Linked DNA regions of Homo sapiens. The protein of the gene in region 4 interacts with the protein of the main gene of each other region in a biochemical or structural test. Each region holds a gene or a part of one and is shown on either strand. Other genes may lie near its edges. The genes, in order: GRK2, RGS2, RGS4 and GNAQ.

The links.
Region 1: the proteins of GNAQ (region 4) and GRK2 form a complex in vitro, tested with the Homo sapiens proteins (3 studies listed by BioGRID).
Region 2: the proteins of GNAQ (region 4) and RGS2 form a complex in vitro, tested with the Homo sapiens proteins (one study listed by BioGRID).
Region 3: the proteins of GNAQ (region 4) and RGS4 form a complex in vitro, tested with the Homo sapiens proteins (3 studies listed by BioGRID).

The regions. Positions count from the first base shown.
Region 1 is NC_000011.10:67,276,472-67,283,501, reverse strand, and holds part of GRK2 (beta-adrenergic receptor kinase 1), read right to left. Parts: intron 6,231-7,030; coding exon 6,154-6,230; intron 4,303-6,153; coding exon 4,229-4,302; intron 4,085-4,228; coding exon 3,983-4,084; intron 3,877-3,982; coding exon 3,802-3,876; intron 3,664-3,801; coding exon 3,602-3,663; intron 2,771-3,601; coding exon 2,719-2,770; intron 2,410-2,718; coding exon 2,318-2,409; intron 2,044-2,317; coding exon 1,944-2,043; intron 1,853-1,943; coding exon 1,774-1,852; intron 1,681-1,773; coding exon 1,550-1,680; intron 1,232-1,549; coding exon 1,137-1,231; intron 1,068-1,136; coding exon 960-1,067; intron 751-959; coding exon 684-750; intron 375-683; coding exon 274-374; intron 1-273. UniProt on the Homo sapiens protein: Specifically phosphorylates the agonist-occupied form of the beta-adrenergic and closely related receptors, probably inducing a desensitization of them. Key regulator of LPAR1 signaling.
Region 2 is NC_000001.11:192,804,763-192,812,038, forward strand, and holds the start of RGS2 (regulator of G-protein signaling 2), read left to right. Parts: upstream 1-4,276; 5' UTR 4,277-4,309; coding exon 4,310-4,419; intron 4,420-5,403; coding exon 5,404-5,505; intron 5,506-5,607; coding exon 5,608-5,669; intron 5,670-6,218; coding exon 6,219-6,385; intron 6,386-6,639; coding exon 6,640-6,834; 3' UTR 6,835-7,276. UniProt on the Homo sapiens protein: Regulates G protein-coupled receptor signaling cascades. Inhibits signal transduction by increasing the GTPase activity of G protein alpha subunits, thereby driving them into their inactive GDP-bound form.
Region 3 is NC_000001.11:163,065,402-163,072,362, forward strand, and holds the start of RGS4 (regulator of G-protein signaling 4), read left to right. Parts: upstream 1-4,083; coding exon 4,084-4,127; intron 4,128-6,503; exon of another isoform or gene 6,504-6,742; intron 6,743-6,961. UniProt on the Homo sapiens protein: Inhibits signal transduction by increasing the GTPase activity of G protein alpha subunits thereby driving them into their inactive GDP-bound form. Activity on G(z)-alpha is inhibited by phosphorylation of the G-protein.
Region 4 is NC_000009.12:78,028,809-78,036,480, reverse strand, and holds the start of GNAQ (guanine nucleotide-binding protein G(q) subunit alpha), read left to right. Parts: upstream 1-4,669; 5' UTR 4,670-5,245; coding exon 5,246-5,381; intron 5,382-5,559; exon of another isoform or gene 5,560-5,739; intron 5,740-7,672.

The DNA.
Region 1 (7,030 bases), on a different chromosome or scaffold from region 4:
TGCTTAATAAATGTTTGATAAACATAAAAAGCTGCTATCATCATCATCTGTGACAAGGGCCCCTCTGGAAGCCAGTTACTAGCTGGTTCCAGCAGCTCCAACTCCCAGGGCAGCCCCTCCACTCTGAGAACATTGGACAGGGCTGGCCATGCCCCAACTTATGAGCTCCTCCAAGGAGGCTGGGACCTTGGAGGGGGTTCCAGGTGACGGGACACAGCCCTTGTCCTCATGGGGGCACAGCCAGCAGCATGCCCAAGGCGCCAGGGTACTCACCCTCGGCCCAGGCAGCCCAATCTCCGGTTGACATCCCTCTGCAGCAACCCCTCCAGCAGGGAGCGTAGTTCAGGGGAGAAGGAGTCGGGCAGCTCCACGGCCTTTAGAGAGGAGTGGGACATTAGCAGGGGCTTAGGAAGAGCCCTTGACCCCATCCCAGCTCAGGGGAGAGAGGGGTCCAGGCCCCCGCAGAGGGACAGATGGGGCACAGCATCCTAGCTCGCCCAGCAGTCATGCTCCAACAGCACGGGGAGGGCGAGAGCCTATGGGGCAGGAGGTCTGTCTCAGAGGCCAGAGTAGGGGTCAGTGGCCCAGATCTCTGCTGGCTGGTGGGAAGCAAGAGTCATGGCCTGGCACCCACAGGAGCTCCCCCCAGCCCCCTGCGGCCCTGCACTGAGACCTGCACCCACCATCGTCAGCGTCATGCGGTCGATCTCATGCTTGTCTTTGGTCTTGTGCTGCCGGAAGGGGCTGTGCCTGGGCAAGAAAGGCCAAAAACCAATGTCAAAGGACAGGAATGGGGAAAGGGAGGCAGGCAGCATGGATGAGCTGTGGCCAAAGTCAGGGACGGTGCCAACCCTACCACCAAGGCAGCTATGGGCTCCCCTCCTTTGGCATCCCACCTGGATTGGGGAGGAACTTCTCTTAGCCCCAACCCACCTGCCCACCTGGGATGGGCCACTCACCCCCGCAGCAACTTGAAGAGCATGCACCCCAGAGAGAACCAGTCGGCACTGCTGTCGTAGGCCACGCCCTTCTGCAGGACCTCCGGAGCCATGTACCCGTGGGTGCCCCTGTGGGAGCAAGGGGGCCATAAGCGGGAGTGGCAAGGGGTGGGGAGGGAGAGGGTGGGGGGCACTCACACGCTGGCATGGGGCTTCTTCTTGGAGAAGTCACAGGCCAGGCCCAGGTCCGAGATCCGCACGTGGCCATGCTCGTCCAGAAGGATGTTGGCTGGCTGTGAAGGAAGCCCAGTGAGCTGCCTGGGGCAGCTCAGGATGGGGCCCAGCCAGGCAAGATGCCAGCTGGGTCACTGCTTCACTGGAGAGGACGATGGGTACCCAAAGAAAGGGCAAAGGTGGGGGTCCTCTCTCCTGTCCCCAGCTACAACCTGGACCCAGAGAGTGGCTCGGTGGGAAGGGCAGGGGCGGAGATGGGAAGATACGGGGCGGCCATGTCCCAGGAGCCCCACTCCTCTGGGCCTGGTGGCCGGGATGTCGAGAGGAAGGAGAGGACAGCCACGGAGGTCCAGCCTGGGGACAGCAGGGGCGCTCACCTTCAGGTCCCGGTAGACCACGAAGCGGTTGTGCATGTGCTCCAGGCCCAGGATGATCTCGGCCGCATAGAAGCGCATGTCAGCCTCTGAGAAGACCCCGTGCTGGGAGAGGTGGTAGTGCAGGTCCCCACCTGAGGGAGGCAGTCCCACAGGCAGCACTCAGTGTCTTGCCCCAGCCTCCCGTGCCTGGGCCCGGCCCACCCTAGGGCCCGGCCAGCACTCACCGTTCATGAGGTCCAGGATGAAGCTGAGCTTGTCTGGCGTGTGGAACGCGTATGACATGCAGACAATGAATGGGCAGTCCTAGGAGGGGAGAGGAGGGGAGGGGGCGGGCAGTTAGCAGGGGCGCCCGGGGTTCCAGAGCCTCAGCGGCAGCCCGGCCCACCCAGCTCACCCCAGTGCTGACGAGCGAGAGCATGATGCGCTCGTTCAGGGCCAGGGTCTCCCCCTGCTTCATCTTGATGCGCTTTTTGTCCAGGCACTTCATGGCGTACCTACGGGGCAGAGGTCGGCAGTCAACACCCACCCTCAGAGCAGGGGCCCAGGGCTGCCTCAGGGGGCGCTTGAGGGAAAGACTAGACCCAGGACCAGCGTGTGACACAAATCAGAGACAGGGAGGGCTGGGGCCAGAGGAGCCTGCGGGGGTAACAGCACGGCAAGACAGGAGTGCATGGAGCAGCAGGTGGCCCTGTGTGGAACCCGGCCTGTCAGGGTCCCCCAGGAGCCCGGCTCCCCGAGGTATCCCACCGCGCCGAGCAGGGTGCTCACATCTTGCCTGTGTCAGCCTTCCGGCACCCATAGACCTCGCCAAAGCCCCCGCGCCCAATGATGCGATGCACGCTGAAGTCATTCATGGTCAGCTGAGGGGCAGCGACAGCTGCGGTCACCACAGGCTGCCTCTGCCCAGCCCTGGGGCAGAGGCACCTGGGCAGCAGGGGCTGGCCCCATGCCAGGGTCCCCATACCCATGTCCTGGCCATCCTTGCCACATATTTACCTGCTCCGGCCTCCCCATGCTGGGATCCCGGCCCTGACCCCCATAGCCACGGCCCTGGGGGCTAAAGGACAGACATCCCCTGACCTCCCCCTCCCAGCCAAGCCACAGGCCCAGCTCCCGGGAGAGGAGCAGCAGGGTGCGTGGCTTTCCATGCCCCACCCAAGCCCACTCACGTGGATGTTGAGCTCCACATTCTTCCACTGGCAAAACCGTGTGAACTTATCGCTGGAAAAGAAGAATCAGGGCTCAGGGGCCACTCAGAATGTGGGAAGGATGATGCTGTCGTGAGCCTCCCCACCCAGCCGCCACTCCCTGGGGTCCCGTGAGGGTAGGTGTGGAAACATCACGAGCGTTAATGTCCTCTTCCAGGAAGGATATGTTGAGGGCCTGCCCGCCCACAGCACCAGTCAGGGCTGCTTGGGTGCCCAGCATGGCCCTCGGCCACCTGGCCGTGGCTTCCTGCTGGAATCAGATCCGCACAGAAAGGAGGTCTTCCAGTCTAACCCAGACTTCCTGCTACCATATCCTTGACAAGTACGTCTCCTGTCCCTGCTTGCATACCCCCAGTGACACAGAGCTCACTCCATGGCTGGGCAGCAGTGACCCTAAAACAGCTGCTCCCTAAAGCTGGCTGAAATCTACCTACAATTCCCACCCACCGCGCCAACTCTGGCTGTGAGGGTCACGGGGGCCATGCGCTCTACTGGGCCTACCCCTACCAGGACTCTGATGCTTCTCAGTCCAGGTGGGCCAGCAAGGTGCTATACAGCCCACGGGAGAGAAAGAGGCACAGGTGGCACAGCTCTCCTAGCTCCCTGGAGCTAGGAGACTGCCTGGGATGGGCTTTGAGCTGCCTGGTGCTGAGGAGGGCAGGGTGGGAGATGACCTGCAGCCTGTCTGACTTCTCAGGAGTCCTTGCAAGGGGGCCGCTGACGGGCCAGCCACCTGCCTGCTCAGGGCCTAATGAAGGCTGGCTTCTGCCCTCCACGCCAGCCATACCCCTTCTGAGAGCGGCCCCTCCCTCCCCCTTCCTCTCCCACACTTCCCTGCTCTCACCTCTCAATGAATTTCTGGAACACGTCCCCTCGGAGGTTTTGACAAATCTCTTCGATGTATGGCTAAGGGAGGAAGCTGGAAGTTGGTGACTGAGCCCCGAGAGACCGTGGTTGCCCAGGCCCCACCCCTGGCTGACCAGGCTTGTTGACCAGGGGCTGTCCAAGGTGACCTTGCCTGGGGAGGGACCGGGAGGCACACACCTGGAAGAGATCCGGAGGCACCTGCTTCTTCCCCAGGTGGCCTTGGACATGCTCAGTGGCACTCTTCGAGAAGGGCTGGGGAAGACAGAGGTGGCCATGAATTCTCAGCAGGGTCCTCTCTTCCCCTCCCAATCTGCAGGTGACTCTGGGCCAGCACACAGGGCCAGCTGAGGACACTCACATGCGAGCAGGCCAGCAGCTCCTTCATGATGTATGAGTCGAAGATCTCCCGGCTGCGGGCCACACGCTCCTCCTCCGTCTCCAGCTTCTCGTACTTCTTGATCTGGAGGACAGGATTCCTGCAGGTCATCTAGAGCCCAGCAGGGAATGGGGATGCCCACACCAGGCAGCTTGTGGGTTCCACAAAGCCGCCCCAACCTCCTCCCCTTTCTCCAGGCAGAGCAGGGCTTGGGCCTCTGGGTCTCACCTCCTCATAGAATTCCACCAAGGGCCTGGCCTCCTCCAGGTGGTTCAGGCAGAAGTCTCGGAAGAGCAGGTACCCTGAAGGCAACAGTGTAAGGTCACAGAGCCACGCCTCTCTCAGAGGCCTTCCCATCATTGTGGATGGTGTGGGTTGGGCTCCCTGGGCAGAACTGGCTATGGAGGTGGCAAAGGTGGTCTCGGCCCCAGGCAAGGGGTGGGCCAGGCAGCTGCTAAGGCTGCTGCCAACGTGAAGATTCCTGGATTCTGGGTTGGGGCCCCTGTGTTTCTACCCTCTTCCTGAAATCTGTTTCCCCAGGTGGTAGCTGGACGGCGATGGGCACCAGGGTGAGGCAGAGGAGCGGGGTTGGCTCTGGCATCAGGGAGCCCTGGCTTAGCACCTGGGCCCCCACTCACTGCAGCCCAGGGCCCTGCGCCTGCTCTGTGAGGCCGATACCCCCCACCGGGGCGGGCTGTGCAGGTGCAACACGATTCAGTCTGGGGGCCCTGGGATGCTGTGGCCACCGGGGCCAGGTCAGGCTGCAGCATGGGGAAAAGGTTAGCAGGGGGCTCTGAGGCCACACCACTCCTCTGGACCCTGCCCCACTCCAGTGTCTGGCTGATTTGCACAGCAGCCTGAGAAACAGGCAGGGAGGGTGGGTCCAGTTGGGGAAACTAGGGCTCAGGGAGCTGGTCAGACACACTGTCTGTGGCAGAGGCTCAAGTGGAACTCAGGGCTACTCCACCAAATGGCAGGTCCCTGGGAAAGAGGTTGGGGCTGGGGCCTCAGGGCAGGGGGCATGGAACGGGTGTAAGCCACAGGGAACTGGAGAGGCAAGGTGGGCTGTGGGAGGGGCTCTCAGGGGACCCCAGATAGGGTGTCCTCATGCCTGAGTAAGGGGCCTGGACCCTGGACCCCGGCCCCCGAGCACTACCAGGGGACAGAGGCCCTCCTCAGGCCTCCAGTCTGACACGGGTAACCAGGCTCGAGCTGGGTGGCCTCTCATGCCTTCGGGGGCACTGCCTGGGCACCTGGGTCAGAGCTGCGGCCATCATTTCAGTCCTCACTGCCTGGCCTTTAGTGCAGGGCCTTTGAGGAATGGGGGCCAGGCTTCACAGTGGGCACAGTGCTCCCATCTGACTCTGACAGGCCTGCACAGTCGGACTCATGAGTCCCATCTCCCAGATGAGGACACCATCAGGCTCAGAGAGGTGAAGCAACTTGCCCAAGGACAAAAGGCACAGGCCTGGGACCCAAACTTTGTGCTTCTTGACACACCGACTCCCCCAGGCTGACCCCCAATGCCTGATCCCATCAGGCCAGGATACCCCCTGTCCAGAGCTGAGCTCCTGTTCTCGGGAAGGCCAAATCAGAGCCATGTGGGGCTGGAGCCTGCTTCCCGAGACCTGCCCCAAGCCTGCCCTCCGGGCCAGGTCCGCAGGGTGGGTCACATGAAACTTCTGACAGCAGGCATCAGACACCAGCTGGAGGAGGAATGGAGGGCCAACACCAGGCAGGTTGCTTACAAAGAGGGCCCATGGGGTGGGGCGGGGCCAACCACAGCTCGGCAGGCGCCACAGGAAGGGCCCCGCCTCTTCCTGTCAGTTCTACCAACGGCCCAGAGCAGCTGCGGCCGCGCCAAGGGGAAGCTGCAACTCTCAAAAACAAAAACCCCAAAGGAGGAACTTCCCTGGCGGCCCTGGAAGACTCTGGGCCCCCACCCCCACCACGGGGCTCCCTGGGCCGACAGCCAGGGGCAAGGAGGCACGCAGGGTCGCAGCGACTTGGAGCAAGCCCTGGGGTCTCGCTGGCTGCTCCACCCTGAGTGGATGGGAGGCCAAATCTCTGGAGAGTGGGGAGCACAGCTGGGCTGGCTGGGGTAGGGGCAAGAAGTTAAGTCCGGTGGCTGGCAGAGCCACTGCCATACTCACCCAGCTTCTGGGAAAAGATCTTCTCAAAGGTCACCTCGCCCCGGTCCTCCAGGTACTTCTGCATGACACTGCGGATGCTGTGGGTCAGGGGGGCGCAGTAAGCAGAAGCCCCCAGAGCCCGTGGGGGCTGCAGGCCCAGAAACGCGAGCTGAGGGCACTGTGGTGGTGTCGCCACTCCCTCCAGGAAGGAGGCCAGCCCGTCAGGCCTACTCACTTATCCCAGCCACAGGTCAGACCAGAAGGCTTCAAGGAAGCCTTTGCCTGCACCGCCCCCGCCAGGCTGTGTCCTCAAAGGCCAGGGTGGCCGGCAGGTGGCCCCCTGCTCAGAGGCCCACCGCCTGTGGGGTCTCGTCCCAGTGATGCCACCGGCTGGCTTTGGGAACTTGGCCAAGTCACAAAAGCCAAGCCTGGTTTGTGAGCGGATGAAAAGACACACATGTGGCATCTCCACGCAGCAGCACATGGCTCGGCTGTAAAAAGGAACAAGGCACCAACAGGGGCCACAACGTGGATGAGCCTTGAAAACATGAGGCTGAACGAAGCCAGTCACAAAGGGTTGCCACATATTGTGAGATTCCACTCATATGAACAGATCCACGGACACAGAACGCAGATCCGTGGCTGCCGGGGGCTGGAGAGAGGGAGAGGAGTGACTGCGGTGGGGACGGGGTTTCTTTTTGGGGTAAGGGTTGCACAACACGGTCAATGTACTAAAAAACACTACATTGTATAATAAAATGATGAATTTTATATGAATTGCATCTCAATTTTTTAAATTGTAAGAAAAGGCCATGCCTTGGTTCGTGTGTCCCTAGTACTTGGATATAAAATGTGACCCCTGCCCTGGGTTGCTTGGTATGGCCATAGGGGAGGGCCT
Region 2 (7,276 bases), on a different chromosome or scaffold from region 4:
ATACAAGGATTGGTAAAATTATTAACTTAGCTATAATACATGTCAAGTATTAGGTTTAACCTGTGATTCATTTCTGACCAAAACACTCATTTTCTCTCAGCTTCTGGGTATGAAAATTACATTCTCAAAAATTAATCATAATTTTTAAATCTCAGATCATATCAGGGGTTAAGGAGTATAGTACAAAATCTCATGAGGTCATATTTTCATTCTGTTAAAAGAATATTTCACCAACTAAATAGGACAAAAAAATTTTTTAAAGACAGGCATTATACTTCTTTAAATATATTCAACAACTAGGGTAATAAAAGTTTTCATTTTTTCCAATTACTCATCACCATATAGCATGTAACTTCCTGATTTTTTCCTTTTTTTTTTTTAACTAACCCACCTATTTAACATTTCATAAGGTAAACGATAGGTTTACAGCTCTTAGAAATTTGGAAACTAAAATATCTTACTAACTGAAAAAAGCAAAGCACAGAATAATACATAGAATGATACTTTTGTGTTTTTAAAAGCAAGTATCTTGGTTCCTAAATTTCCTATTTTTATTTATTTATTTCTTTATTTTTAATTTATTTTTTTTTTTTAAGAGGCAGGGTCTCCCTCTGTCACCCAGGCTAGAGGGCCGTGGCACCATCATGGCTCACTGTAGCCTCAAAGTCCCTGGGCTCAAGCAATCCTCCCACTTCAACTGACTGAGTAGACGGGGCTACAGGTGCATGCCACCATGCGTAGGTAATTTTTTTTTAATATATTTTTGTACAGACGGGGTCTAGCTATGCTGCCAAAGCTGGTCTTGAACTCCTGGGCCCAAGCAAGCCTCCTTCCTTGGCCTTCCAAACTGCTGTGATTACAAGCGTGAGCCACAGCATCCAATGGCTTTCACATTTCTAAAGCTTAAGTAGGTGAGTTATTTTATATAAATATTTTTAGTTAATAGGAATAGGAATTAATAACTTTTATTAATAATGGTTAGCATAGAGTGGGAGCAGAAGGGAGAAGTATGACAGGGGAAATTTTTACTCTTCATAATTTAAGACACGCAAGATATATAATACAAGAATCTCAGATACATTATGCAAGAAACTTGTATTTTTTCTTTGCCTTCTTCTATAAACTTTTAAAAAAATATAGAAAGTTCATAAATTATCTGGAAAACCTCCACCACTAATCTGTTCAATCAATCTCTCCAGTAGAGGGCATGGTAGGTTCAACACAGAAAATGTATGGTTAGGTTATCAGCCACTCTCAAACTGAGGTTTTGTTGTGCAACTTTTACAACCCACTGCATTGTTTCTTCCTCTACCACAGGATGGAAAATATGTGTCATCTTTATGTGGAGCAATTCTGTTTACCTAAAAGCCAGTTGCAACAACAAAAAGGGAAGTCATCAAAGATTCCAGCTTTTGTTTTACCTATATATACGTAAATATATGTAATGCATATGTAAATATACATGTAATACATATTACATATATGCGTGAAATATATGATGTATATATTCATGTCACATATATTACATGTATATGTAAATATACATATATTGGCCTGTCTTTTAAAAGACATTAACATGGCAAGTTTTTGAGGAAAAGGTTTCTATAGCAGGTACTGCCTTAACTCTTAAAATTACATATAGATACAAAAATTACAAGTTGATTTATATCCAGATTTATTAACCAACCACATAATTTTCAGAGAAAAATTAATTTTCTGCCACCTAACATCAGTCACTGATCTGGAAGGGTTTATGAAAAAAGCAAAGAATTATATTAAACACAAAAACATCAAGAATAATCTATATTTAAACCAGTTGCTTATGCAGGTACATGTATATTCACTTTCATTAATATATTGAGATGATTAAACTTCCTTGGCTTGGAGATATCTGAAAAGTGTAATTAATTATTATTATTATTTTAAGAGACAGGGTCTCACTCTATCACTCAGGTTGGAGTGCAATGGCACAATCATAGCTCACTGTAACTTGAATGCTTGAACCTCGAACTTCTGAGCTCAAGCCTTCCACCTGCCTCAGCCTCCCAAAGTGCTGGGATTTCCAGCATGAACCACAATACCCAGCCTGAAAAGTTTAAATGTTAATCAGTTTCCTTATTTTTCCTACGTATTATCCAGTGAGCATTTATTAAATATCTATAATGAGCTTAATCTTCTACAAATTTGTGTATCTTGTGTATTTGTGTACCTACAAATTGAAACATCTTGATATTTAATAGTACCTACATATTTATAACCTAATTACGTCTGAGTTAATCCTCGTACGATTTTTTCCATCTTGAACAGCTATGATTTGAACATTTCCTTTTGCCACACATATGCAAATCAGTAATAAACTTCCGTACAGTACTTTAGAGCTTAGAAAAGACCTTTCATGTAAGAGTCACATAATATCCTATGAGGCTGGCAAGAAAATACATGTTACTCTTATTACAGATGAGAAACTGGGACTCAAAGAGGTGTGAAGCTAGTGTCCCAACAGTTACTTAGCATTTACTGGATAAGCCCAGGCTCTAACTGGGTCTCCTGACAGAAGTCCAGCTCTCTCTCTCTGCTGCCTCTTTGTCAGAACTCCTGGCCTGCCAGCGAATTTAACTGTCTATGAGTAAATTCTAACATCTAAGGTTCTAAGTATAAAATATATTGAGGTTTACAGTGGTGAGAAAAAGCAAGTGTCTGCGTATTACAGACAGCTGATAAATACGTATTGAGTCATCAGAAAGTGAAAATAGATGTAGGACTATTATGCAAAGCATAGGAGAGGAAGAGCATATGCTTAAGAAAAAATGGCATTCCTAGAGTTAACAAGCATGTTTCAAAGTATCTATTACTGAAATCTACACGATTTTCCTTTCCACAATAAAGTCCACAACTGTTGTCTTAAATAATAACTGCAGGTTTTGCCCTCCAAGTCAAACTTGGAGCTCCAACTACTGGCAGCTCACCGTAAGAATATATTAATTATTTCCAATTTCCTTTTAAGAAGTCGAATACAAAGTAGAGAGAATATCTGCAGCTTGGTTGCAAAGCCGCTTAAACATTTCACTGGCTAGTTCTGGTAATATTATCCGAAATCAACTCATTTTGTGGTTGAGGTAATCTATTTGTCTTTACCAATCAAGTCGTTTTAAAACCTTCAGGAGTAGAGATGATACTTGAAGAATTAACAAATAAAACTTAATCAAGGAAACTGTTAACTCATTCTCCCCCCTACTTTTTGCCAGTTATTAAATGTTCTGGTAAATCCTAACTCAACAAGAATGACTCATGAGGAAATCCTGACTCCTTGAACTCACTGATTCTGGTGCATTACAGCTATGAAATCTCTATGTCTGCAGCTTTCTCTCCCACCATAAGGAAATCTGTGATTTCTATTTTGGCAGGAGATGTGACCAAGGACTCCTGAGGAATGACCCTATAGACAGACCCAGCCACGTGCCTAGTAGTGATCAAAAATGCAAACCCAATTAAAGCACTGTCTTCTGATAAAGTCACTTTCTCTTGTTCAATCCCTAATGTTCATTCTCAAAGTGTTCCAAGACGCCCCAGCAAGCTGCAGAGCAGATCCCACCCTGCCCCTGGGCAATCAACGTTTCAGGTTACTCCTTCCTTAAGTTAAGTGGCAGAGAGAAACGGGCGAGGGTCTCCCCATTGCCTCAGTTCACAGACCAGGGGGTGTCGAATGAGTCCTACAGCAGGACAGCAAACAAGAAATGAGGCGCGGGGTCAGGGAACGCGCTCAAAAAAGGAAGAAAAATCCCACTCTTCATTCGAAATCAGGCCACTGCACTCCGGCCTCGTGGCGGGCGACCTCCTCCTGCCAGGGAATCGCCGCTCTGGCCTCGGGCTGGGGAGCCCGTCAGGGTGGGTGAGGGAGCGCCGGCGCCCCCGCCGGGCCGCCGCCAACTTCGGCTCCCTCCCTCCGTCGCAAAGCCCTCGAGCCCGCCCGGCCGCCACGCTTCAGCAAAAGGTCGTGCGCAGCGGCCCACACTGAAGACTCTCCATCTGCTCCCACACCTGCCCCAGCTGGCCGCTGCTATGTGGCCCGAGTGCGCAAGAAGCCGGGGCCGCAGACGTCAGCAGCGCCCCGGCTTCGAGACCCTTCGGCAGCAGCCGTGACTGCCGCCGGCGGGCGCTGACCCATCCCCGTGCCAGTCTGCAGCCGACCAATCCGCGTCCTCTTGAGGCGGGGCCGGAGCCGCGAGGCCCCGCCCCCAAGCCGAGGCCTCATAAATGCTGCGACGCACGCCCAGCCGCAAACAGCCGGGGCTCCAGCGGGAGAACGATAATGCAAAGTGCTATGTTCTTGGCTGTTCAACACGACTGCAGACCCATGGACAAGAGCGCAGGCAGTGGCCACAAGAGCGAGGAGAAGCGAGAAAAGATGAAACGGACCCTGTGAGTATGGCTTTCTTCCCTCTCCCGCCACCCCCTGCCCCACACTGCAAGCTGCAAACGCGGTACTTTCGGGCTCGCCTTTGACGTTAGGAAACTAGCCTGAGCCTATGCAGGGAAAAAAAATCGAAAAGGTCAATTTGTTAAGTAAGGTTAAATCTGGGTGATGCTCGGGTACAGTTTAAGAACCGAGGGAGACAGTTGATATGAGGGCGGTGGTTGATGCGCTAAGAAATTGCGGGTTGGCTTTTTGTCCTCCTGCATTCAAAATGACATCAGAATCCTGCGGCTGAAGCGCGTCCCCAGCATTCATACGTTGCATGATGAGTTCTCATCAGCTTACACAGCTACTGGAAGGTGATGCTCTTGCTGGTTCTGAATATACTCGTTTAAAATCCATTTTTGTTTTTTAATTATAGAGCAGATCTCACCCAGTCCGAATGTGGAACAAATAATTGTTATGCAGCGTCTGCTTAAAAGAAGTGTCGTAGGTGGGGAAGGAAGAGCGCAGGGGAATCAGTCACCCACCTCTTTGTACAGTCTCTGGCGTGGTCCAGAACCTCCTGCTCTAAAGAGAGAAGCGTGGGCCGGCTCCAGACAGTTCCATGTCTGTCCTTTTCATTAAAGTGCAAAACGTCTCGGAATTGTAATTAACCTTGCAAACAAACTGATGCCCTTTGTGAGCCAGAAATAGTGTCTGCCTTTTGAACTAAATTCATTAACAATTCTTTAAAATACCCTAGTGATTATAGGTAGCCCTGCCCTTAGTTGTAAAACTAGTAGATACGGTCAGATTAATGGACGAAACTGCTCAGTACATGAGGTTTAAATGTTAGGTGGATAAGACTTATTTGAAGAGTTCTTGCTTTGCCTTATGCGGTTTGTCTCTAGTTACTGGGTGACTTTATTTGGTAAAAATGCGTTCAGCTGCAGTAGCATATTCAAGTGTTGCTAGTTAGTAATTATCTTTTTAATTTTTTGTTTTAGTTTAAAAGATTGGAAGACCCGTTTGAGCTACTTCTTACAAAATTCCTCTACTCCTGGGAAGCCCAAAACCGGCAAAAAAAGCAAACAGCAAGCTTTCATCAAGTAAGTTGAGAATCCTGTGCTTGCAAATATCAATAGTTAGCTGCTGAACTGAAAAGGGGAACTCTGATGTGCGTAAGCTAACATACAGAACCTCTCTTGCAGGCCTTCTCCTGAGGAAGCACAGCTGTGGTCAGAAGCATTTGACGAGCTGCTAGCCAGCAAATGTAAGTTAACTCTTGAGCTTGAGCCATTGCTAACATCGCAAAAGCCTGGAAAGGCTGCGTCCACCTAACAAAAGAGCAGCTTGCCTGAGGGGGATTAGACTGCAGTCACTATAGGATAAAGCCTGTTTTTCTTTCCTTTATTTCCCAGGGTTTAACAAATAAATGCATATATTCTCTCCAGGTGGGGAAGAAAATCAGCCTAAACAAATTAAAGTGGCAGTTGCTTATAGTTAAGGTTGAGTCAGTTTTTCCATTGCATACAATGTTTTCAAGAGGCTTAGTTCCCAGAGAATTTATGGCTCCCCTATAAATATTTACTTTGCATTGACAGCAAAGTACTTATATTTTTGCAGCAGAGTGCCAACATAAGCCTTTTGCCTACTGGTATCTTAGTCTTTAAAAAGCTAAATTTTGAGAATTACAGGTTTGAGCGAAATCTAGAAAATTCATTTAGAAATAATTAAAATGTGAGGGATAGGAGAAACATAAGGAATCATTTGGTCTCTCAGTTCTTCACATTCTGCATGCTCTCTTTTCTCCCCCCTTCAGATGGTCTTGCTGCATTCAGGGCTTTTTTAAAGTCGGAATTCTGTGAAGAAAATATTGAATTCTGGCTGGCCTGTGAAGACTTCAAAAAAACCAAATCACCCCAAAAGCTGTCCTCAAAAGCAAGGAAAATATATACTGACTTCATAGAAAAGGAAGCTCCAAAAGAGGTAAGGAAACAAGTTCCTAATTTCAGCACAATCTGGACATCTTTAGCACAAAAGTGAAACAAAGTAATCAAGGACAAAGCGGGCTAGGAGGGGTAAAAAGTCCCTCCACGTTGTAGCTTTCAGTTATGTTAAAGTTCTCCTGTGACTTAGCTAGTAAAGCTAATCACACATAATTTTTATTTTTTGTTTTCAAATACTAAATTTTAATCTTTAACTCTGAATACCAAATAAACAACTTTTTTGTTTTATTTCAGATAAACATAGATTTTCAAACCAAAACTCTGATTGCCCAGAATATACAAGAAGCTACAAGTGGCTGCTTTACAACTGCCCAGAAAAGGGTATACAGCTTGATGGAGAACAACTCTTATCCTCGTTTCTTGGAGTCAGAATTCTACCAGGACTTGTGTAAAAAGCCACAAATCACCACAGAGCCTCATGCTACATGAAATGTAAAAGGGAGCCCAGAAATGGAGGACATTTCATTCTTTTTCCTGAGGGGAAGGACTGTGACCTGCCATAAAGACTGACCTTGAATTCAGCCTGGGTGTTCAGGAAACATCACTCAGAACTATTGATTCAAAGTTGGGTAGTGAATCAGGAAGCCAGTAACTGACTAGGAGAAGCTGGTATCAGAACAGCTTCCCTCACTGTGTACAGAACGCAAGAAGGGAATAGGTGGTCTGAACGTGGTGTCTCACTCTGAAAAGCAGGAATGTAAGATGATGAAAGAGACAATGTAATACTGTTGGTCCAAAAGCATTTAAAATCAATAGATCTGGGATTATGTGGCCTTAGGTAGCTGGTTGTACATCTTTCCCTAAATCGATCCATGTTACCACATAGTAGTTTTAGTTTAGGATTCAGTAACAGTGAAGTGTTTACTATGTG
Region 3 (6,961 bases), on a different chromosome or scaffold from region 4:
TCAACGTTATAATGAAATGGCATTGATGAAATGATGGCATTCAAGGACCTGCTGTACCTTGTTTCACTTAAAGTCACTGTTTCCAATAATCTATTGATGACATTGAGGACTTACTATATAATAATAAATATATATATAATCGACGAAACAGGAATCAAACTGCTAACTCTGCTAACTGGTCTCCCTGCTTCCACACTCTGCCCACTCATCTCAGTCTTTCTTTCACAAGAGTCAGAATGATCAGATGAGACCCCTCCTCTGCTTCTGTTTCTTCCATGGATTTCCACTGCACTCTGATAAAGTCCAGCCTCTTGACCACAGCCTACAAATCCTTGCACGATCTATCGTTTACTTTTCCATCTCCTTTTATGCTACTTTCATCTTGTTCTCAATTCTCTAGCTATGCTGGCCCCTTCTTGTTCTTTCCCATTTTTTTTTAATTTTTAAAATTTGTATATATTTATGGGTTATAAGTGAAATCTTTTTAGATGCATAGGTTGTATAGTGATAAAATCAGGGCTTTTAGGGTATTCATCACCTGAATGATGTACATTGTACCCCTTAAGTAATTTCTCACCATCCGCTGACTTCTTGCCCCCTGGGTATTCATCACCTGAATGATGTGCATTGTACCCCTTAAGTAATTTCTCACCATCCGCTGACTTCTTGCCCCCTGGGTATTCATCACCTGAATGATGTGCATTGTACCCCTTAAGTAATTTCTCACCATCCGCTGACTTCTTGCCCCCTCATCCTTCTGAGGCTCCATTGTCCATCATTCCACACTCTACATCTATGTGTACACATTATTTAGCTCCTACTTATAAGTGATAACATGCAATATTTGTCTTTCTGTGTCTGTCTTGTTTTACTTATGATAATGGCCCCCAGTTCTATCTAGGCTGCTGCAAAAGGCATGATTTCATTCTTTTTTATGGCTATGTTCTTTCCCAATTTAGATAAAGAACACTCGCACTTGCTCTTACTTCTATTTGGAATACTAATTCCTAGGCTTCTTGCATTGCTTTCTCCTTCTCACCCATCAAATCTCATTTTAGATACCACCTCTTCAAAGAGGGCTTTCCTGACCACCTTGGCTGAATTAGCCCTTCACCATCTGATTACTCTCTAGCACATCACCTGCCCATTTTATTCATGGTACAGGTCAAAATCTGGAATCACCTGATTTGTTTATTTTCTGACTCCTTCTACTGAGATGAAAACTCTACTAGAGCGGAGATTTTATCTGCTTGTATCAGGTACTGCTTCAAACAGCACCTGATACAGAGTAGGTGGTCAAAAGATATTTCTTAAACAAATGAACAAATAAAAAGTAGATCTTTTGAGAGTAAAGCTCTTCCACACTACCAGAGTCATTCAGGAATGACAAATCATAGAATAACAGAATTTGATGCTTTGTGCATATCAGAGAAAGAAGGTGGAAGGTTGTCAAGGTATCATGATGTACCAGTCCTCGCCTCCTCAAACACAATCTGCAAGTCCCACAGTGAAAAAGTAAGTTAACTCATGTGAAGCGTTTTACAAACACTTTTTTAAAAGTCTTAAAACTCCTAAGAAAGCAAGATTTAATAGTCAAAGAAGTGAGTAAACATGAAATGCCTGAACAGAGTAATGAGCTAAGCACAAAGTTAGAGACATGTTAGTTAATATGTCTTGAAAGCAGCAGCTCCTGCTTTCAAGGAGCAAGAACAAATTGGGCAAGTGAACACTCCTTGAATAAAATGTGTAAAATTAATTTTGGGTTATGTTCTATACTGTGTATAATAGAATGATAAAAATTATTTGACTAGCACTTTGTAGTTTAGAAATATCTCTATTTACACAGTTTACCTTATTTGATAAGACTGTTGAGTGATGGGATAGCATGGTGGACAATCCACATAACTGAGTATCGAGACACCTGTATCTGGACCCAGCTCTGTTAGTAAGAAGCTGTAACCTCAGCAAGTCACTTTCTCTTTCTGGGTCTCTATTTCCTTTTTGGTGAAATGAGAGTGTTAGGCTAGATTGCCTTTGAAGTCCCATTTTGTCTTTAAAGTCCCATCTATTGCAGTGATTTATATTTAACTCATGACAAATCAGGCTTCTCTTATTCTAAGTGCAAGACATAAAACTTTTATTGTGGAATTTCAGGCATCAGTAAATCTTTTTGGGTACTCACTTATGTTCCTGAAATCAATCTATTTGAGTGATCACTCTTTTAGGTGCCCAGGTAAACAAAGAAGGCCATGGTCTTTCTTTGAGTGACCTTCTTTCCCTTTTAATTAGTCTGACCTCTTTAATGTCAGTTCTGACTGATTCATTTCCCTGGTCCATCTTCCTTGGTCTGAGGGCCTTCCTAGTTTCATATTGCACTTCAGTTCCTTCCACACCACCATCAAGGATGGCTGTCAACATTCATTTGTTCTATGTTATAATTCAAGGAAAAGTTGCCCAGTAGCTAATCCAATAAATGCCCTCTTATGGGCGGCTAGAGACTTTTTCCTATAATTTAAATGCATCTTCTGTAGATTATGGTCCCTCCACCACTTTACATTTGTCTGCTGTCTCCTTGCTCTGCTAGTCATGGAACGTGTTGGTAGTGGGGGCAGTGTGGGATGTTCAAGGGCACGTATTGGGTAGGGCCACATATGGGCATTGCTTTGTGCCATTCTTTCTATATTTTTGGTATTTTGCATCTCACTGGAACCCAACTATTTTTCATCTCTTCCACCTAAACTATTTGATGCCTCTGTTTCTTATATATAAAGTATAGCTCACTGTAGCCTATGATCAGGAACCTATCTGCTTTCTAAATGAAAGCTGTTTTGGTCAGATCTAGCAATTAATTCCCTTCTTCCACTTATAGCTTTCCTCTGTAACTCTGGTGTAGGTATTTGGTTTATGGCTATAAGATGTGAAACACCTGAATGATTCTGTCCATGCAGGCATTTCAGTTCATGATATTGTATGTAAAAGATACTGATTGTCTAGGTGTTCAGAAACACCTATAGGGCTTAATATTCTTACAATCAGTTTGAAGGCTGGTGATACGCAAAGCAAACTACATATTTTTCTGCCTGCTCTCTCTCTTTCTCTCTACATCTCTCTTTCTTTATCTTTTGAAATATCAGTTTGGAGACTTAGAATTACATAAGACATAAACCCATTTGATATAAGAATTGCTGTGTATATTTGCTCATCTACTCCCTCCTTTGGTCCTCGAGCTGCCGGTTTAGACTTTTTACAGGACGCAGGCATGTGAAGGAGAAACTGTCAGTGCTAGGCTGAATTCTGTTGTTACCAAGATTTCTAGAAAAGTATTCCTCAGTCAGGTTGATTACAGATATAGCAAATCTATTTTTCCTAGGGTAGTTTCTGTATGCTGCCGGGCTTATAACTGTCTGTCATCCAGCTATTTCTCTCCACCTTCTTGTTTGCATAACAACCAAGGCAACTTCCGCAAATCACTGCGTGGAGACGATGATCCTGCCAGCTCCCTTTTGGAAATCGTGAGGATCAGATCTTGGACCATGTATAATATGATGCTTCTAATCCAAAAGAGGAAAGGCATTGGGAGTCAGCTCCTAAGTAAGCTCCAGAATTCCTGCTGGTACTTTTCCTTCCAGGAAGCAACTTCCTTGATATTTTTTTTTTACAGGCATATGAATAAAAACTATATTTTGCAGCATTGTACACTTTTTTTCCTTTTCTAGAAATTCTAAACCTCTGACATTGGTGGAGACATTGAGTACATTTTTTCCCATATCCCTACTTTTCAGAAGGATTTTCTCTGCTCGTTCACTTAACATTGCTGATGCGTCAGTCTTTTCTTCCTCATCTCTTTCAGGGGCTGGAGAGGCAGAGGGAGACAGAGGAGCTGGTACTGCAGAGCGGTCGTCTGATTGGCTGGACGGTCGTAGCTGGGCTATAAAAGAGACCCCTACAGGCTTAGCAGGAAGACGCTCAGAGGATTCTGACAATATCTTTACCGGAGAAGAGGCAAAGTACGCTCAAAGCCGAAGCCACAGCTCCTCCTGCCGCATTTCTTTCCTGCTTGCGAATTCCAAGCTGTTAAATAAGATGTGCAAAGGGCTTGCAGGTCTGCCGGCTTCTTGCTTGAGGAGGTAAGATTGCTTTCAGCCATTAACCATATTAAACTTTTGGCTAGACTTTCTCAGTTATTTACATGTTGTACTTACTAACCTAGTTCTGTGCAATTAGAAACAGTGTGGTCAGGAGAGCACGACTTTCTAACTTTCCTCCAAGACTAGCTAGATATTGTGACTTAAGACATGTGCTCCCCAAATTTCAGCCCTTATGTGTTGTTTTGTGTGACCTCAGTTTTGAGAACTGTTCTATTCTTTAAGCCAGGTCTAAGAAAGCTAGTTTTAATTAAGAAGCGAGATGAGGTTTGAGGCTATGTACAGTGATCTGTAATATCTCCATCTGTGATTACTACTGCTATTTGAGCATCCCTGGAGTACATAGAAGCCTGGCTCTGGGCTTTCTGATTGTATGCTACAACTTGTTTCAGGAAAGGTACCCCAGAATGAGGTTTGGCTCCATCATCAGAAAGGCACTATGCTTTCCGTGTGGTGGTGCAGTAACTTTCACTCTCTATGTTCTTATAAGCAAATGTTACAATGAGATATGAGTTTTAAAGCCAGATCTTCCTTATCTCTCTGCCCCATCTCTAGTTCTTGAAGTGTCTCATATGAGTTTGGTTGAGAAATATTGATCATTACAAATCAGTTAATAGTTTTGTAGAAGATCTCATCTTAAAGACATTGTTTTGTTAATATACTCCCTTGATTTTTTTAAAAGACCTTACAGACATACAGCTATTCATTTGTTTTTGGTTTGTTCAAAAAAGGTATAAAGAAATGCATTCAGAGAAAGATCATATATTAGCCAGTTGAAAATTAAACACAAAATGAGTGCATATTACATTACTTAATCTTGCAGTCAAAGGTAAAAAGTCAACCTAAAGGTATACTACCTGCTTTCTTATCGCACTGCAAATAGAAATTACCACAAATTTTATTTTGGAAATAATCTCAGAAAACATAATTTTTTATGTACTATTAAAACATTTACTTTCCAAATATTCTGTCATTCAGGAGTATGGAAGTATCGATGGCTTCTTTAAAATGAAGCAGGAGGGTCTGGCAGAGAGTATCTATGAAATAAGTTCCTCTGACCTTCACGCTTAATTTTCTGAATGGAGTGGAGCAAATTACTTCAAGCTTCACTTAACTTGCATATGAAATGAACCGTACAAAAATACAAGAGTGTCAGGAGAAAGTTATGCTCTGGTAAATATTTTGCAAAACAGATAAAAGATAATACTAGAGCTCTGTCCTCAAAGAGTTAAGCAGCTAATCTAAGGAGGTAAACTCTATGTCAGCAGGATGAACTGCTCTTCCCTTTCCTCCTCAATAAATTGCAAATCATCTAGTCCAACATCTTTACCACCAGTGCCTGAGGCTCCAGAGGAGCCATTGCCTTCTCAAGGTCACATAGGTGGTGGGTGAGTTAGGACCAAATCTAGAATTCCTGACTCCAGTAACTTCTGAAGTCATTTTGTTTTTTATTTTTATGGTTTTATTATAAGAATACTTGCTAAGCACACTTACCCCCTGCATTGATTAATAACTCTAGGATCTCAGGTGGATCCAGCACATAGAAATATGAATTCGTTTCTATTTGGACTTCATGATATATTTACATTATCACCTTGGAATCACCCTAACATTCAGGATTGTATCTTGTTATAATCAAAAAGGATGTTGCATCCCCTGAACAGTCATCAGTCAGGGAAGCAGAGGAGGGAAAGTAATCTTGCGAGGAAGAGAAAATACTATTTAAGGGACAGTCAGAGAACATAATGGAATTCAAACTTTCTGGGAAAACCTACATACATAAATGTATTAGTGGCCATCCTAAATGTCTTTATATCTTTGAGGCTTTATTTTCCCTACTCCAAATAGACACATTTAGTTATTCATTTCTTTTAAAATGGTATTTCTCTTTTTAAACTATTTCTTGACTTTTTTAATAAAAAGAGATGCAAGCAAGAGGATATTTAATAAAAAGTAAGAGAGTTGAGCTTAAGGCTTATTAAAAGACCCCCTTTTTCTAGTTAGTCAGGAGCTCTAATGTGCCCTGGCTACCTATTAAATGGTGGCAATAAACTGGAAGCTCAGTGATGACTCTAGCCTGCTTCTCCTAATAGCTGTTAAGCCTCAAATGCCCTTTAGAGTGTGTATGTCCTTTAAAGTAGCTATTAAGAAGGAAAGCAGCAGCAGCAGATATTGTCTAGAAAGAAGCCCCAAGAAGCTGAGGTTTCAGCTTGGGCATTTGTTTTCGCCATCCCATGCTCCATTTCCCTCTGCTGGAACTGTGCACCTCAGTGTATTCTCCCTCTATACCTCACAGCAGGAACTGCTTGCCCCCCCCCCCCCCCCCCAACATACATGGCTGGAACTGAATAGACTTTTACTTTCCCGAGGTGCTTCTACAGTTCCCTCTGCCAGCAGGGGAACAGATGGAAATAGCAATCACCTGCCAGAAGGTGGCGTGCAGCAAGGATGTGCATCTTTTGCCGCTACTGCTTTCTGATTCCTAAAAATTACTCAGAGATCACTCATGTGTTCAGTGATTCAGGTTCTGTTGAAGATACCAAAGATATTCGGTTGGTCAAAATGACGGGCATATAAAGGCTTCTCAGGTTTCTGAGGTAAACTGAAGGGTCAGAATTCCAGTTGTGGATGAAGGAAATGGTGTTATGACTGCCTCAAGGTTTTGTAGCAAGTCATAGGGAACCAAGAGGAATCTTGTTTTCCTCAGAGGTCATGCCAACTCCAACTCCCGTTCCCTAAACTGTCTCTGAGCCATAGACTAGTAATGGACTCTTCAAGCTCTACCATTAGGTATCTTTTAAAGAAAGCTGGTTATT
Region 4 (7,672 bases):
GTAATAGGAATATCAACTCTCCTATAAAGTTGATTTAGGTGGAATTAATATAGGCTTCCATCTGGGTTTTGAACAAAAATACTGCTTCCCAACTTTCTGAATACTCTAGTGATGGCTAATTTTCCTTGGTGAACGCATTGGAGGCAAGATTTTGAAGCACAGGGTGGAAGAACATTTTACAGAGGGAGCCAAGCTTTGGTGCACACAATCTGGCTAAGGAAAAAAAAAAAAGAGAGAGAGAGAGACTGTCATGTGGTCAACATGTGGCTTCTTTCACTGGAAGATCTAATTTTCATTCATTTAACAAATGTTTATTAAACATCTATTATACTCCTGGCATTGTTCTAGATGCTGGATTCAGGAGTGAACAAAACAGACAAAAATCTCAGCCTTATTGAGCTTTACATGAGAAATCATCAAAAGGAAATGAACGTAATGGGTTCATTTGCTTATTCATTCATCAAACATTAGCTTCTCTGGCTGAAACACTATTCTACTCAGCTTAAAATGAGCTCCCATCTGACAAGCCTTTTAGAGTCTTCCAGTCTACCGGGACTTTGGTGGCCTTCAAACTGTAAAGTACAGTACTTCCCTTGATATTGCTAACCCTGGATAAGCACAAGATAGATACATTTGATTGGAATCAGAGTATTACCCGGGTACGTTTTTTGAGCTTGGTAAAGGAAAGATGTCACTGAGGTACTATGCTTCATTTAGATTCTAGAATATCTGCTATATGATTTGTAATGTGGGTATTTTCTCTTTTAGAAGATGTGCTTCGTGCCTAGTTTTTCATCTTCAACATGTTGGCCCTGCTCTTCTTTCAACAGGACAGTTCCAATTAAGAATCTCAGTTTTTCTGCTGTTATAAGAATGTTCCTGTAGGTGGCGCCATTTGCAGCTCTCAGCGTCTCACTAGGTCGGCTTCTTTTTCTTCCCCACGAGCAAGTCCACTTTATTACTTGGCCAGACATCTCTTTCCCAGCTCTTGTAGGATCTGCGATGCTCTTCAGGCTGATTTCTAAAAGGTCTTCTGGGTGACCAGCGTGTGCTTCCTCATACTCTGGGTTAATTTGAATGGCAGCTTAGGGAACTGCTTCTCTTGAACTTTGTTAGCAATCCATTTTCCATACTGTATGTTAGCAACGAGTGTTTCTCATTTTGTATTGTTTATTCTTTGAAACACATGGCCTGTCTCACCAAATAGATTATGAAGCCTTTAAGGGCTTTGTATGCCTCAGGCATCTGGCATAATACACTGCCTGGGACAGGCAGTCTGTAAGTGTGTGTTTGTTGATGATGTAGGTGGTAGCATTCTTTTGTTTATTCATTATTTACTGAGTAGCTGTTCTAGGCTAGGCTCTCTTTCTGGTGCCTTGAAAACAGTTATGAAAAACATGGTCCCCGCTCTCAAGAAGCTCCTAATTCAGAGGGGAAGGGGGCAGAGAGAAAGAGAACACAGAGAATGACAGTAGTATGGTGCATATGAAGCAGCCATGCTAAGTGACTGGGAATAAGAGAGGTACTGTATATTGCCTGTGTCTGATGACCTCTATGGGCCTTTCCTTCCCCAGGAGATCCTTTTAGAAGAGCATGGCCTTTTCATTCTTTGACTGCAGAACCACTCCTTAAGACTAAACTATGCCTTTTACTGTTTTTCTTTGCCAGTCCCCAAAGGACAGGGTGATATGATTGTGGGGTTGGAGATCCATCTCAGGATACCATAGAAAAGGTGACAGTCTTCCTATTTTTCTCTGAAGTTCAATTTTCCTTGGGTATTGCAATTTGCTTTTCAGCTCATTAGTAATTGTCCTTGAATTCTCAAAATGGTTTATCATCTTACTCTCTGTGTGGGGTGACTTGGAATTGCTCATTTACTTTGAGGTGATGTAGGTACCTATTTATTGAAAACCTTTTCATTCTTTAACATGCATGTCAATGCCCCTTTTCCTGCCGTATCTTTTCCAGTTCTCCCCTTCCTTTTTATACCTTTATGTTGTTACTTCCACCCCAAATTTTATACAAATTGATTTTAGTCTTGTATTATAGCTGCTTAGAGCCTCATTATAAGACTATAAGCCTATGGAGGGTAAGGACTGTATTTTATTCATTTTAGTATCTCTCTTATCCTGTACCTTCACCTGTTATTTACACATAGTAGGCAATGAATAAATGCTTGTTGACTGAATGAACTGGGATTTTGTAACATAATCCCTGTTTAGTTGCATGTTTTAGAGTATGTGCTTGTAGAACATGGTCAACTATCAGTTGTTTCTGCATGGGTTCTATTTGTTTGACTTAGTCTCTAGGAATATTTGCTTGGCAAACGCTCTCCAGATAATATGAAAAGGTTTTTGGATAGATCTGGGCTCAGACTTGGAATTTCTTTTCCTGTTTCCTTCTTGACACCCATATATGGCTTTATCACTGTAGAGTGTTGGTTTTTCTTACTTCCTGGTTTCTCCCCAATACTTGAAACATTCTCCTATTGATTCATTGCATCCATTTAAGTATCTAAGTTGCCAGGGAGTGTTCATGATGTTGGGGGGATACAGGGGGGACAAAACAGACTCTGACTCTATAGCCCGCTGAAACAGATGAATTCATCAAATAATAGGACAATTCAGTCAAAACATATTACCTGATAGCCTGATGGCTCATTTTAAAAGACATTTTTAAAAGTCTCAGAGGATCCCTGGGTAGGTAACCAGAGACTTCAAGCTTTCTGTCATTTGGTTTTCCAGTGTTCTGTGTCTCTCCAAAGCTCATATACATACATATATTCGGAGGATGCAAACTTAAAATTTTTTCTTCTGAAGCCACTTTCTATTTTTGCATACTGAATTTCAATCTTTAATTTCTTTAGTCACTTGATTTTAAATTTTAATTTCATAGCAAGTCTAGCTGTTCTCTGTAGGCATTCACATAAAAGGGTTGAGGTTTGCCCTCTCTGCTCTCCAGGGCAAGGTGAAATTTAATTATTTTCTAGGTTTTAAACAGAGAACCTAAAATATATATTTTATATCTTGACTTGCTTGATTTAAATCGTGGTTTAGAGTGTGTGTATGTGTGTGAAACGGTGGAGTAATGGCAAATGAAAGAAAGAAGGAAGTTACACACCTGTTGTCTAAGAACCCTATATGAGTTCTTGATCTGTAGCAAAAGCAGAGTCATGACCGTACCTTACACTCTGGATCAGCAGGTTGCACCAGGGACACTTCAGAGAACACATGAAACGTGAAAAAGCGGTTCTCTTCATAAAAGACAATTTTCTTTGAAGACCTCAGGTTCCTTTAAGGCAGGAAGCAATATGAGTTTCATCTCCTGGGCCTGATTAAACAAGATTATTTTCGTGTGCTATTTATCAGTAGACGATCACAATGAAATGTGCATACGACAGTTTACTGCCTCAATCACATATTGCAAATCAAAAAAACTAGAATGCCGTTTTGCTGGGGCCTCCTTAGTTTCTCTTCTATTTCATTCTTTCCTTTCCTTTTATTCCACATTATTTTACATTTTCCCATAAGTCATCCATAATTCAATCTCAGTCTAGAAGAGTAAATTCGATTACTCGGCGGCTAAACATCGTGTGCCTTCTCAGAAACAAGAGAACTTGTAAAACAAAAACAAAAACAACTTAAAAAAACAAAAACAACCAACAACCACCAAAAAAACAAAGGCATGAAAAGTTGGAACCTATCGGGAGGCTCTTGGAAACTTGGGCAGCTTCCTTTCTCTGTTCAGGATTTAGATTTCTATCTCACGTTACTTTGCGAACAGCTTCGCCTGTGAATCTCCCCCTACACCTCTGGGCACCGGTGCCAATTCCTTCCCTTCCCTTCCCCAGTAGCCCCACACAGTATAGAGGAGCTTATTTTCTAAGACTGCACCGGTGTCAGAGGTGACGTGAGAGTTTCTAACCGAATGGCGTTTTAGAAATAGGAACGGGAAACACAGAAACGGCTGAGGAGCGACCCCGTGGAGCAGACAGGCACAGCCCGGGAGCGGCGGACGCCAGCGCCGGCGCCGCAGGGAGCGCGTGCGGGGCTCCGCGGGGCCGCCTCCCGCGACTTCAGCAGGGGCCGCGGCCGCGCTCCCGGGCCGGTGGGCTGAGGCAGGCAGAGGCCGCCATATTCCTGTCTCACCACGCCCGGCCGGACGGCAGCCGCAGGTCGGCTGCGGCCCTGGCACGCAACGGCGGCCGCCGGCTCGGGCTGCGCGTCGGCGGCCGGGTCTGGCCCCGACTTCGGCCGGGGGCGGCCGTGACTGCTGCGCCCGCGGACTCTGCCGAGGGTGCGGGAGCAGTAGGCGTCCGCAGAGCCCGCGGGGGCCGGCCCAGCCCGGGAGCCGCGCGGGCGAGGCGAGAGCCGCACTGGGAGGCGCGCCGCGGCGGCCGCGAGCCCAGGAAAGCCTTCCAGGAGGGGCCGGGCGGCACCGCCTCCCGGCTCCCTCCTCCCGCGCCCATCCCCTCCGCCTCTTCCTCCTCCTCCTTTCGCCGCCGCCTCCTCCCTCCCGGATCTGTGCTCCAGTTCAGAGAAAGAAGAAAATGTGTGTGTGTGGCGAGGGGGAGGGCTCGCACTGAGCAGCCGCTCCGCGCCTGGCAATCGGGGCAGGGGGTGGGCGTCTGGCGGGGGCGGGGGCGGAGGCGGAGGCGGAGGAGCGCGCGGTTGCCGGGCGGGACGGGAACCGGGTCTGCGCGCGAGCCGGGCGGTGGGCGCGGACAGGGCCGAGGGCGCCCGGGAGCCGTGTCAGGCGGCGGCGAGGAGCGGGCGCGCCGGGCGCGGGGAGCCGTCGGCGGCCGCTCGCTGCGGGGACACCCCGGTGAATGAGCTCTCGCCGCCAGGCGCACGGCGTAGGGGAGCCTCGCAGGCGGCGGCGGCGGCGGCGGCTCGGGGGGCGAGGCGGGCCGCCTGTTCCCGGGGAAGGAGGCGCGGGCGTCTGAGCGAGGCCGGGCGCGGCGGCCTTCTCTCACGCGCCCCCCGAGCCAGCGCCCGCCTCCCGCGCCCGCCTCTCTTCTCCCGTCGGCCCAGACTATCCGCTCCCACCGCGCCCCCGGCCCACCTGGTGGCCCCGGCCCTGGCCGCCGCCCCCGCGGCGGTTCCCGGAGCTCGTCCCGGACGCGCGCCCGGGCGGCGGGGGCTCGGCGGCCACCGCTGCCTCGGGGGAGCGAGGGCGGGAGGGTGTGTGTGCGCGCTGTGAGCAGGGGGTGCCGGCGGGGCTGCAGCGGAGGCACTTTGGAAGAATGACTCTGGAGTCCATCATGGCGTGCTGCCTGAGCGAGGAGGCCAAGGAAGCCCGGCGGATCAACGACGAGATCGAGCGGCAGCTCCGCAGGGACAAGCGGGACGCCCGCCGGGAGCTCAAGCTGCTGCTGCTCGGTGAGTACCGTCCGGGGCCCCGCCGGGCCTCTGCGCCCCCAGCCCACCATCCTTGGCCCTGCGGGGCAGCTGCCTTCGGCGCCCCCGCCCCCCGGCGCCCGCGGTTCGCCCCTACCCTCCCGGGCGCGCCCCCGGCCACTGCCTTCACCCGCGCGGGCGCGCGGGCGCGTTACACACAGACACACACACACACACACACACACACACACACAGCGACACACACACGCAGCACAGGGGTCGGGGCTGCCCTGCCCGGTGCCTTGGCTTGTTCCTTTTCGTGTCCCTGAGGGCTGTACCTTATCTGCTGTGCATCTGCTAAATGGCAGATCACTCCGACCAGAGGCGCGGGGGTGGAAAGGTGGGCAGAGGGGTTGAACTTCCAGTGTCGTGGCCGCGGCACCCCATGGGGTGGTGGCGTGGGGAGCCGTGTGTGTGGCCCAGCGGGTGGCGAGCGGAGCCGGGGCACGTTGGGGGATGGCCTGCGGTGGAGTGGCCGGTGTGCATCCATTATCAGTGCCCTATGGGGTCAGGAGGGAATGGGGGAACGGTGGGCAGACTCGCAGCTGGATTCCCGGAGCACTCATGGTGAGGAAGCCAAGTGGTTGGCCCTCCAAGGAAAGGGTCTGTGTACTGGGGGCGAGGCGGGAGGGCAAGCCCAAATGTGTCACACAAGTGCTGTTCTCTAGCCACCAGACCATCGAAAGGAGGGAGCCTAGAAGAGTTGGCCAGTGGATGGTGACAGGCGTTATTCTCGTCTGCACCATTCCTTCTAGATAAAGATGAGGGTAGGGGAGCGTTGTGCTGTGTGGTTGTTGACAGCGACCGGTATCTTTTGTTTAATGAGGCAACCTAGATGTAGGCCTCAGTTCACAATAGTTACTACCGAAAACCAGTGCAGTCTCTCAGTTACTCTCTTGGCAACAAATAGAAACCTTTTGTTTAAAACAGATAGCATTTTAATGTCTTTGGAATCTGGGCGAGAAGGAAAAACGGGAAGCATACAGGAAAAATTTCCCTCTAGTCTTGAAAAAAAAATTCTGCTTCAACACTAAGTTAGCAAGAAAATGCCATTTCTCAAATAGAAATTTATTGATGATTATCTCTGGGAGGATGTTCAGAATCAAGCGATCAGGGTTCATATACAAGCCACAGTGACAGAACCCTGAGCTACTGTGGCAGGAAGAGCAAACAGCTTTGCAGTAACGGGCCTGAAAAATGTCTGCACTTGTGTTCTGGGTATTTGCATGTATAATAAATGTGTTTCTCAAACATTTCTGTAAGAAAAGAATATTGTACTGTTAGTTGGTGTTTGTGAGAAGCATGCATTTTCTTTCTTATCTTGAGCATTCCATTTGCTGGCTCAAGGAACCAATTGCCTTTGGGAATGAACTGCTTATGTACTGGATCATTTACAAGCAGGAACAAAATATACTGATCACACACATAGTTACTAATAGTTAATTCCCATGACATGCTTTCTTTATGTCTTCATTTTGAAACTCAATTAGATAAATGTGCACATGTTTATAAAAAGCAGAAGGCAAAAGCACTGGATGAAAGAGTTGGGCTTAGGGGAATGAAGCCAGGGAGGAGGCAAACTGCAATTGGAAAGTAAAGATTTTTTTTTTTTTAATTCTCATTTTGAGCTACTTCTAGTGGCTGAAAACAGGCAGTTGAATGTTTTCTGAGTTCTCAAGGTTGAGAAGAAAATAAAGAACAAAAGAAATAAGAGTGTTTTAAGTGTATAATTAAGGGGAAACGCACGTATTTTAGAGAGACTTGTTTTAAGAATTGTGTTTTTTTTTTATTTTATTGCCCTGTTGACAGTCTTTGTTTCTGTTTAATTGTGAACTGGGCAGTTGAGGTCTCTCCAGCCAACCCTATTTGCCTGAAAAGTGACAGCTCTGAGTTTCCCAGCAGCTAAGAGTTAAAGCCCAGGGAGTTTCTCAGTGGGCCTAGGTTTGAATGTCTAAGGGAAATACACTTACATGGATGCTTAATTCCATACTGTGTATTTAAATAACACTGTGCTTTTAAAAATGAACTTGGAGATAATTTTCTGAGAAAAAGTGTAAACCAATTTTACTGCTAAAGTGGTGGTAGTGTGGAGAACTTTTTTTTCCTCTTATTAGCGGAACATCATGCAAGAATTGCTACTGCTTCATGTTCTTGGTATATTGCTTTTGCAACATGAATACTACAATACTTACACTATTTCTGTAGTAATATACGCTAAATGTGGATTTGTGCGTGCGTGTATGTGTATGAGTGTGATTTCAGGAGTTTTTGAA